Linked DNA regions of Homo sapiens: region 2 is linked to region 1. The links come from fine-mapping of genetic effects on gene expression. A gene starts in region 1. The other region holds a variant in brackets. All regions are shown on one strand. Distances are from middle to middle. Region 1 holds the start of GPATCH2L (G-patch domain containing 2 like). Region 2 overlaps GPATCH2L (G-patch domain containing 2 like).

Evidence for each region.
Region 2: its variant is fine-mapped to the expression of GPATCH2L in thyroid (GTEx, PIP 0.96).

What each region holds. Positions count from the first base shown.
Region 1 is chr14:76,148,637-76,153,882 of GRCh38, reverse strand. GPATCH2L (G-patch domain containing 2 like) reads right to left here and starts at 1,961. Exons shown (of 10, transcript NM_017926.4): 1 at 1,892-1,961.
Region 2 is chr14:76,196,846-76,202,091 of GRCh38, reverse strand. GPATCH2L (G-patch domain containing 2 like) reads right to left here. Exons shown (of 10, transcript NM_017926.4): 10 at 1-401. The coding sequence ends at 241. Among named protein-coding and RNA genes, the nearest start is that of GPATCH2L, 48 kb to the right of the region's middle. The variant A/T (reference allele first, on the strand shown) is at 2,606.

The DNA of each region.
Region 1 (5,246 bases):
GTATTGAGAATGAATGAAAAACTGTTCTTTGGCCTGGGGTCACTGCTGACAATGACCATGGCAGAAAGAAACAGAAAGACAACTTAGTGACACCATTTAAGGAAGAATGCAGTTTTCGTGATCCAAGAAATTGTAGTGACCCAGGTTTGAAGTCAGAATGGAGAAGAGACTAAGTTTGCGCCCATTCTGGTACCAACTACCACCTGGAAGCTACCAGGTATAGAACCTTATACAGTATGTCATATATTTTTGAATAATTAACAATTTTTAAGCCCCTCTCCTACCCTCCAGAAAATAAATGTTGGTCCTAGTTATGTGCTTCAGTGCCACACAATCACAGAAAACTAGGATACAATAGCAGCTGAAATGACAGGGATAGGGTGAAGTTTCTAAGATTTCTGGCCAAACTGCTTTCCAAAATTTCTTATTTTTCTGTTCATCCTCAAACCAAACATCACACTTCAGGGGTCACTTCAGAGACAAACATTTCAAGAAATGACAGTAGTAGGAGCAATCTTCAAAATTCCCCCTTAAGGGGAAATATTTAATTTGTACAGCATCTAATTAAATACATATTAAATTTTTAGCACTTTTCTCTTGCCTCTATGCCCAAAGTATTTCAAGATCAGCTTAAAATTCTAAGTGGTGCCACTCTCTGACCATATTCCCATTCATTCAGTTTTCACTTTGCAAAGGGCTTTCTAAAACCTATTTTCATGCTGTGCCTATGCCAATGAACTTAAAGACAGGAAAACAGTCCTCTGGCTTATCTGCCACACCTGTAGGAGCAATAGTGACACCTACTTCCAAAACTACCATACAAACGAAGCTTCTCAAAGTGTCCAAAAGCACATACATTTAAACAAGACCAAGTTCTTTTAAGCATTAAGAAGTGGTTTATCAACACCTGTGAAAAGAAGGGGAAAAAATGGGAAAAAAAAAAGTGGATTAAAATGCCATGATTGAGGTTTGGGAGACAACTGTCCCTAAGACCAAAATAAAGAAACAAGTGGGAACAGCATGTCAAAATCTACTTCCCTAATAAAGAATTACTGCTTTAAAAACTCAGGCAACAAAAATACAAAAAACAAAAACAAAAGAACAAATAAAAACCTCAGGCAGAACAGCACAAACTTGAACATGGAACGAAGTCATCAAACAACTTGCAGTCGAATGCCTGTGCAGAATCCTTTCCTGCCTCAAAGCCTGTAATTCCAACAGTAGTGACAAAAGAACCCTAGAACTCCCCATCTCCAGTCGCGGATGCACACTCTCGAGAGGACCCGGCGGCCAGGCACGCACCCGGGCAGAGATGAGGCTGAGTCACGCACAGGAAGGAACGGGTAGCTGGTGGACAGCAAGTAAGAAGAGAGACAGGAGCAGGGTGGAAGTGAGGGGCGGAGTAGGAGGTGGGAGAGGCAGGAGGCAACTGCTCATTTGGGCTCACGAGGGGCGGGGATCGGCTCTTCTAGGGCAGAAACTGCCAAAATGCAAGTCTTGGCGACTGAGCTCCCTCCGGGATCGGGGGTCGCAACATGGCCACATATATGACAAAAACTGTGTTTCGAAGGACTCTCCACCACGCCCCGGCCCGTCCCTGAGGGCTGGGGCGACCATGGCTCGGGACACCAAGCCCTCAGGCTGCAGCCCGCCCCAGAGAGGCAGAAAGAAGAAAGGGGAAGAGGGGGCTGTGGCCCCGGAGACGGCCCGACCCACATCCCCAGGGATGGGGACAAGGGCCCTGAAAAGCAAGGCCCCACCACCCTCACCCTCCGGCCGTCTGCCGCAGCCCCAAGACGCCCTTAGCCGCTCAGCCGCGGCTTGGCGCTCCGATCCCCTCTGGTACTAGCCCCCAGGACCCCAACACTCTCAACCCATTCCTCCCCCTCACCAGCTGCCGCAGCCACCTCCAACGGCCGCCGCTTTTTGGGCCGACTCTCACCGCCGGGGCTTCCCTCTCTGACCTCATTTCCGGTCTGGGCCGGAGGGGTGGGGCGGTGGCGAGTGGGAGGGGCTGGCTGCACGATTGGGCCCCTGACCCAGTGCTTCCGCCCGTGGCCACACCCACTTCCGCCCCGCGGTGGGCGGAGCCACAGGAAGCCAGGAGATGGGGCAGGGGACAAGGAGGGGTGTTGAATAGGGTCTGGCCGGGAAAGGGCGTCTCAGGGGTTGAGGTGCCCCACGTGGGGAAAGACCCCTGCATGCTGGCCTCATCTTCCTTAGGGGCTTCCAGAAATTGGGCGCTAGGCAGGGATGTCAGCTTATCTCTTGCTTTCTGACCTTTTTAATGGGTCTGTGAAGTTGAGGGGAAATGGATCTTAATGACGTCTACCCTGTGAGCTGGTACAACCTTTGGAAGAGGTTGTTTTGCACTGAGTTACTCAGAACATTTCAAATTGCCTTGAGCAATAAAACAAGTGATATTGGATTATAACTCAAAGTACAAAAGAAATATTCATGAGCCCATGCCGATATAAGTGATTGAATAAATTAACGAATGAGGAAGAAGAGATAAATCCCCCACAGAAGAATCTCAAATAACTTATGTAGACAGCCATCCTGCAGCATAACTTCTGCCTCCTTAAATGTGGGCTGTGCATAGTGACTTCCTTCCCAAAAGTACAACATCTGTAAAGGGGAAAATGAGTGATTTTACAGGGGAGAAACCTGGCAAACAGTAATTCAGCCAGGTGATCAAGACTATGTGCTAAATCATGTTGATAGTATGTGGAATGATATATGATGAGAATGGCACTTTATGGTACTTTCCTTCCAAATCTCATAACCCAGTCTAATTATAAGAAAAAAAAATCAGACAAACCCGAATTGAGGGACATTCTGCAGAGTGCATGACCAGTATTCTTCAAAATTGTTAAGATCAGCAAAGGCAAGGGAAGTCTAAGAAACTCAGAGCCAAGAGGAGCCTAAGGAGGCATGACAATGTAATATGGTGTCCTGGGTGTGACGCTGCAATTGAAAAAAGAACATTAGGTAAAAACTAAGGAAATCTGGATAAAGTATCAACTTTAGTTAATCATAATGTATCGGGCCGGGTGAGGTGGCTCACGCCTGTAATCCCAGCACTTTGGGAGGCCGAGGCAGGCGGATCACCTGAGGTTGGGGGATTGAGACCATCCTGGCTAACAGGGTGAAAACCTGTCTCTGCTAAAAATACAAAAATTACATGGGCATGGTGGCACGTGCCTGTAATCCCAGCTACTCGGGAGGCTGAGGCAGGAGAATCACTTGCACCTGGGAGGCGGAGGTTGCAGTGAGCCAAGATCGCACCATTGCACTCCAGCCTGGTCTACAAGAGTGAAACTCCGTCTCAAAATAATAATAATAATAATAACGTATCAATATTGGTTGCAATTGTGAGATGTGTTATACTTCTGTAAGAGTGAATAGCCTGGTGTGGTGGCTCACACCTGTAATTCCAGCACTTTGGGAGGTTGAGGTGGGCGGATCACCTGAGGTCAGGATTTCGAGATCAGCCTGGCCAACATGGTGAAACCCCGTCTCTACTAAAAATACAAAAAATTAGCCAGGTGTGGTGGCACATGCCTGTAGTCCCAGTCCCTACTCAGGAGGCTAAGGCAAGAGCATCGCCTGAGCCCAGGAGGCGGAGGTTGCAGTGAGCAGAGATCGAGCCACTGCACTCCAGCCTGGGCGACAGAGTGAGACTCAGCCGTCACAAAAAAAAAAAAAAAAAGTGAATAATAGGAGAAAGTGTGAATTACACAGAAACTGTAACAATCTTCATAATTTTTATCTAAACCCAAAATTATCCTAAAATAAAAAAGTTTATTTAAAAATATGCACATACCTTGGACCCTGAAATTTTGCCCCAAAGAATTGTATTCTAAGGAAAAATTGGAAATGGGCGCAAAAATGTTAAATATAGGTAAATCATCTCTGCAGCATTTCTGAGGGAGAGATGAGGAAACTAGAAAAAGCCAGAAGTTCTACAACAGGGGTTAGTTAACTAAATTATGGTACATCTATGGGTGGAATATCTTGCAACTTTTAAAAATTAATGTTGCAAAAGAATATTTAATGACATGAAAAGCCATCGACTTATGATTGTGTACATTTCTGCATGACTGTTATACTTCAATAAAAAGATTACTCTAAAAATGTAGAGTATGATTCCCATACAAAGGAAATTAAATCTATACTCGCAAAGGAATATGACCAGAAGAAGCCACCATACAATATCCGAAATGGTTTCATTATCAATGATTATATCTCCTATCTATTGTTTTTTGTGGATTTTCAGAATGTTCTATAGGTGAAAAAAAGTCAAGGTAGGAGACAAAGATAGCTGAGGTTTTGAGCTAGGGCAACTAAGACAATGGTCAGTGCCATCTGCACAGCTAGAGAAGTCAAGAAGATAAACGGGTTTAGTGGAAAGATGATTAATTCCATTTTGGACATGCTGAATCTGTGACTCCCACAGGACAGAAATATGGAAATGTTCAACAGGTGTCCACAGCCTTAGGCCTCTTTTCTGCATAAGTGAAAATTCTCTCCCACAAATCACATCTGTTCCCACGGTGTTGATTGCCTGCATCAGCACTGAAAGCTCCCAAATTTCTTGAAATCCAACTTATATTTTCATTTTTCTACTAGATAGCTCCACTTGTTCACCTCACCAGCATTTCCAATTTAAAATGTCAAAAATAGGCCAGGCGTAGTGGCTCACGCCTGTAATCCCAGCACTTTGGGAGGCTGAGGCGGGTGGATCACTTCAGGTCAGGAGTTTGAGACTAGCCTGGCCAACATGGTGAAACCCCGTCCCTACTAAAAATACAAAAAATTAGGCAAGTGTGGTGGTGGGCGCCTGTAATCCTAGCTACTGGAAAGGCTGAGGCAAGAGGATCACTTCATTCCAGGAGGCAGAGGTTGTAGTGAGCTGAGAGCACACTGCTGCACTCCAGCCTGGTGACAGGAGTGAAACCGTGTCTCAAAAATAAATAAGTAAATATAATAAAATGTCAAAAATAAAGCTTAGTTTCTTCCACAGTTTCTTTCTTCCTTCCTTCCTTTCTTCCCTCTCTCCTTTCCTTTTTTTTTTTTTTTTTTTTCCCAGACAGGGTCTCTGTGAAATGAAAGACAGAGTGAGACCATGTCTCAAAAAAAAAAAAAATTGGAAATGGGCTCAAAAATGTTAGATACAGGTTAAATTCTTCTCTGCAGCATTTCTGAGGGAGGATTGAGGAAAGTAGAAAAAGTCAGAAATTCTA
Region 2 (5,246 bases), 48 kb before region 1:
AGAGCAGAGGATGACCTTTTTGTAAAAAATTGCTGCCTCAATATTTCACTATTTAAAAAAAAGATTCCCACAACATGATCTTCTGAGAGAAAGAATCCACTGCTGTGTTTGAAAGAGGAGTTGGTTCTGGTGGTGAAAGGACTGGGAATGTCGATTAAGATATGCAAGACTATCTAACACAAAGTCCAACATTTGCTTCAGCAACACCCAGTCAGCTCCTGGAGGGTGAAGTCCTGCTCTCTAGCTGTATCCAGGGCTCTTTTCTTGTGGCATTTTAAAAAATGTAGCAGTAGTTGCGTCTGTGGCTTTCTCTGCTGCAGAGGTCCTCACCAACCACTCAGAGCTGGGTGATTTGGGGGCTTGTGATGCTGGTGTGGTTGGCTCCACTGCATCCATGTGAACTAGTAAGGTTACAACAGAGAGGAGCAAAACATCAAGGGGAGATAAATTAGAATAAGACAAATTAGAATGAGAGATACTTAGAAAAAAAATTTTCTTAATCCTTATACTTCATGTCCTAGTAACCCAAGTGGCCACGTAAGGTATCTCTTTCTTCTCTACAAAAAAGTAAAGACAAGATTTAAATAAGATAGTATTTCCTAATCTGAGAAAATGGGTTCAACTGAACAAATAAATTCAGTAGCACGCATTCATAATGTAGTAAAAATCACTTATTACGTACTTATGTGTGTATTGCTTAAACAATGAATACTCATGATCTTGTTAATGCAAACCCTTACTCATAGATGCTCATAGAGATGACTCATAGTGATCTCCACTTTCTAGATCAGGGAGCTAAGGTATACAGAGATCAGATAAATTGTTCAGGGATAAAACAGAGCTGGTTAAATATCAAGATTCAAGCACACATACTGGACTCTAAACCCCACGCTCTTCCTGCCACAACCCATGCCTCCGATAGGGCAGTGTTACCAATAAATATATACCATACAACAAGGAAAATGGTAGAAAAAGAGCACAATCAGGCCCAATATTTTTCAATAAGATCACTAAAGACATTCTGGACAGGAGACATGGCTTGTGCAGGGCTGTCTTGTATACTTCAGAACACTTACCGATCTGGATCCTATCTGCTGAATGCCAGGAACACTCCCCAGTCATTGTGACAAACAAACATTTACTTCACATTTCCAAATGCCCCTGAGTGGAGTGGCACAAACCACCATCATCTCTACCCACTCTGCTGAGAACAAATATATACTAAAATATGGCAAAATCTAGGGAAGTTTGGATTTTACCGTCACCCAATAATTCCAGTCCCAGAAACGTAACCTAAAACAGTAATTTTCAAATTGTGGATCACAAAATCAATTTAGTGGGTCATGGCCATTACTTTTTTTACTCAATGAAAAAAATAGAAAGTATCGGCATGTACCCAAGATTTATTTCAGATTTACATGTACAACCAACGCACATATTCAAACATGAATTTCTTATTGTGGGCTAATGTAAAAATATCTTGAAAGCTGTTACTCTATATACAAGAGTTTCTTGAGGGCAACAGCTTTCAAACATTTTGGAACGTCACCACAGCAGCAGGAAATACATTTGACAACTCAAATCTCTCTCTTTTTCTCTCTCATACACACACACTCACAACAAACTCAGGCACATATACTCACTCATATTTAACTGGTAATAAATTTCAAAAAACTGTACCTACATGGTCACCAAACTGCAGTGAAAAAAGCACTACCCTAGAAAAACTTTTTTGCTATTTTTTATTATAGTAAAATATACATAAAATTTGCTATCTTATCCATTTTTAACTGTACAGTTCAGTCGCATTAAGTACATTCACACTGTTGTATAACTGTCACCACTATTTATCACCAGGACTTTTTCATCATCTCAAATGGAAACTCTGTACCCATTAAACAATAACTCCCCCCATTTCCCTCTTCCCCTAGCCCCTGGCAACCACTATGTTCCTTTCTGTTTGTATGAAGTTGACTATTCTAGTAGCTTATAAAAGTGGAATCACACAATATTTCTCCTTTTGTGTCTAACTTATTTGACTTAGCAAATGTCTTCATCCAATTTGTAGCACATGGCAGAGTTTCATTCTGAATAAGAAAGGCTTTCAAGCTACATAATATTCCATTGTATATATACGGCAAATTGTGTTCATCCATTCATCCAGCAATGGACATGTGATTTGTTTCCACCTTGACGACTGTGAATAATGCTGCTGTAAACAAAGGTATGCAAAAATCTATTTTGAGTCTCTGCTTTTCATTCTTTTGGGTATATGCACAGAAACAGAACTGCTGGATCATATGGTAGTTTTGTGTTTAACTTTTTGAGGAACTGTTTTTTTACATGCTGTTTTCCACAGCAATGCATGATTTTACCTTCCCACAAGCACTACACAAGGGTTCCAATTTCTCCACATCTGCACCAACACCTGATGTTCTCTGTTTTTTGATATAGCCATCCTAATGAGCAGGAAGTGGCCTAAAAGAATGTTTGCACTTGTTCTCTCAGAGAACAGTGCAGTATTTTCCATAATAGCATAAAACAGGAATACAATCCAAATGTTCATCAAGAACATTTAATTATAACATATTAATCATATTCATAC[A/T]ATAGAATACCACATACATGGCAGTTGAAACATAGATTTTGGCAGGACAAAGCATAATTGAATCTCAAAAACAGAACCCGGTGAAAGCTGCAACATAAAATATGACATACTTTGATTTCATATACACAAGGTTCAAAAACACAAAACTGGACAATGTATTGCTTGAAGATACATATGTCTGCTAAAACTACTTGAAAAAAACAAAAGAATGACAAACGATAAAAAACAATCAGAATAACTTTTACCTCTGAGGAGAGCAGGGAGAAGATTTTTAAAGATTTTAACTTTTTAAAACTTTTAAACCTTTTATAAAAGAAAATTTTAACTTTTTCTTAAAGTGAATGGTAGGTACGTGGATATTTGCTGTATTTTATTTACTCCTTACATATCTGCTATAAATGTTCTTTTATACCCCTTCAATATTTACTAAGAAACATGTTTAATTTTAAAAAACATTTAAACTTTAAAAAGACACAGTGGGCAATAAGAATTTGCCCTATGACTCCTGAGAAAAGGGACATCCTAAAATGGAACTACTGAATCCAACCATGTGGTTACAATATATTAGGAATCACTCTGTTTCAACTTTAAGATTCTATTAATTTATTCTTACAACAAATAACCAGTGGGTTTATTCTATGGGCTAGGTATTCATTTAGATGCTAGGGGTACAGTAGTGAACAAAACAGATAAGCAGTCCTGCTCTTGTGAATGCATCTGACAATACATTTGACAATTCAAATCTCTCTCTCTCGCTCTCATATCACTGACCTAGTATTTGAAACCTGATGTAACTAATTAACAGATTAACTATTAGGTACCCTTCTGAATGATACTCTAAGCACACATATCCTATCCCAGAAAGAGAAAGGTCAGAAAAAGTTTTTGGGATAGCTAAAATATACTCACACAAATAGCTGGGTTCTCAACAGAATTTCTGATCACCTCAATTCCGCTTTATCAAAAGGCATGTGTTTACTTTTTAAAGGATTGGAATCTGCACACCAATGGCTCTGATCTACCATTCTGATGAAGAAAATCATTTCAAGAAAACGAAGCCTGGTTTTCATCTGGGTTTATTATGTTTTTTACAGCTACTTGGTCTCAAATTTTGGAGAAGATAATCTTTTTTTTCTTTTCTGACTACTTTCTTTAAGAGCATATTCAGCTAGTTCACTTCAGCATGAGGGAGACACTTGCAGGGAAATCCCTGTTCTGGTGTATCAAGTCTGAGAAGCAGGTTAGCATGCTTGCTCACTAAGATCCAGGGTGTGGTTCTGTGCACTAGACACCTGCATGCTAGAAAGCCGTAAAGGAGGGAGAATGAAGATACAAAGAAAATAAAGGTGCTACACTTTCAAGATGGGTCTATTTAACAACCTATGGTCATTTACAGTCTTTTTCCTTGGCCTTTTGTTACTATTAGTACAAAAAGGCAAGGAAGACATGCTGTTTCTTCCTGCTCTTCACCTCTCTAGCCTTATTAATATCTTTAAATTCAGTCAATTGCAACTCAAAACTTTCTACCACTGGGGGAGGGGAAAAAGGGAAAAGATTTGTGGCTGCATGTTTAAGAAAGAAGCTGAATTCATCACAGTGACAGGGGAGAGTGTTGGCAGAGATCTGAGCTATTTATTCTTTTAGGAAAATCCTATAAAGAATGACACAAGGAAGCCTCTATCTGCAGTCTTGTTCATCACACTGGTGAAGAGTCCGATAACAGATGTATGCCGTAGCGTGATTTAGTGCTAGGAGCTGGCCCCTGATGTGTATTAATACAGCGGCAAAGCGGAACCCACCTCTCTTCATCACTCATTCCTATAAAAGAGGTGGAATCCGAGATGGCCCGATGTTAGGCAGAGCAAGCCCATTTGTTCTACTGACTGATGGCTCAGACTCAGGCTATGTCCTTCACCTCCATGGGGCACTCAGGTTGTGGGCAGAAAAAAAGAAAATGCTCAGTGAAGCAGGGCTTAGTCAACAAGTGAGGAAAGGAGCTGGGCTCAGGAGGGGAAATGCTTAATGCTCAAGTCTTGTTTAATACCCACCCCCACACACGTACACTTCCCAACCTGAAAATGGAACAAGGATTTTAAACTCTTTCCAGTGGTTCCTCTCTTATAAACAATTAAAAGCTAAAAATAAAAGCTAGATATTAAGGAGAAAAAAAGAACAAAAAGATGAAAGAGGGGTGGTTTTCTTTTAATGCTTCCAATACCATAGACTGAATGAGGATCTGAGTTTTGATGCACAGTCATAGTCTAGACTTGATCTTGTTTTATATAAAAAGAAGAACATCTGCAGGACAGCTCTAGAGTCACAAGGAAACCGGTCTGATCTTGGCTCTGCAATTTATCAACCATGTGGCCTCAGGGAAGTGATTTAAGCCTTGGTTTTCTCATGTGTAAATTGGGAATAAAAACAGCATCTACCTTATAAGGCTGTTGCAAAGATTAGGTGAAATAATGTTTACAAAGTGTTCAGCTCAGGGCCTGGCCATGTGGAAAGCACTGAAAAAAAAGTACTATAATCATCAGACCTGTAATGAAGATTGTCCAGTATGAACCACCATAAAGCAGACTTTCCAAACAGAAGCACAAAGAGGACAATTTCACAGTTCACCAAAACTTACTAAGTTAAG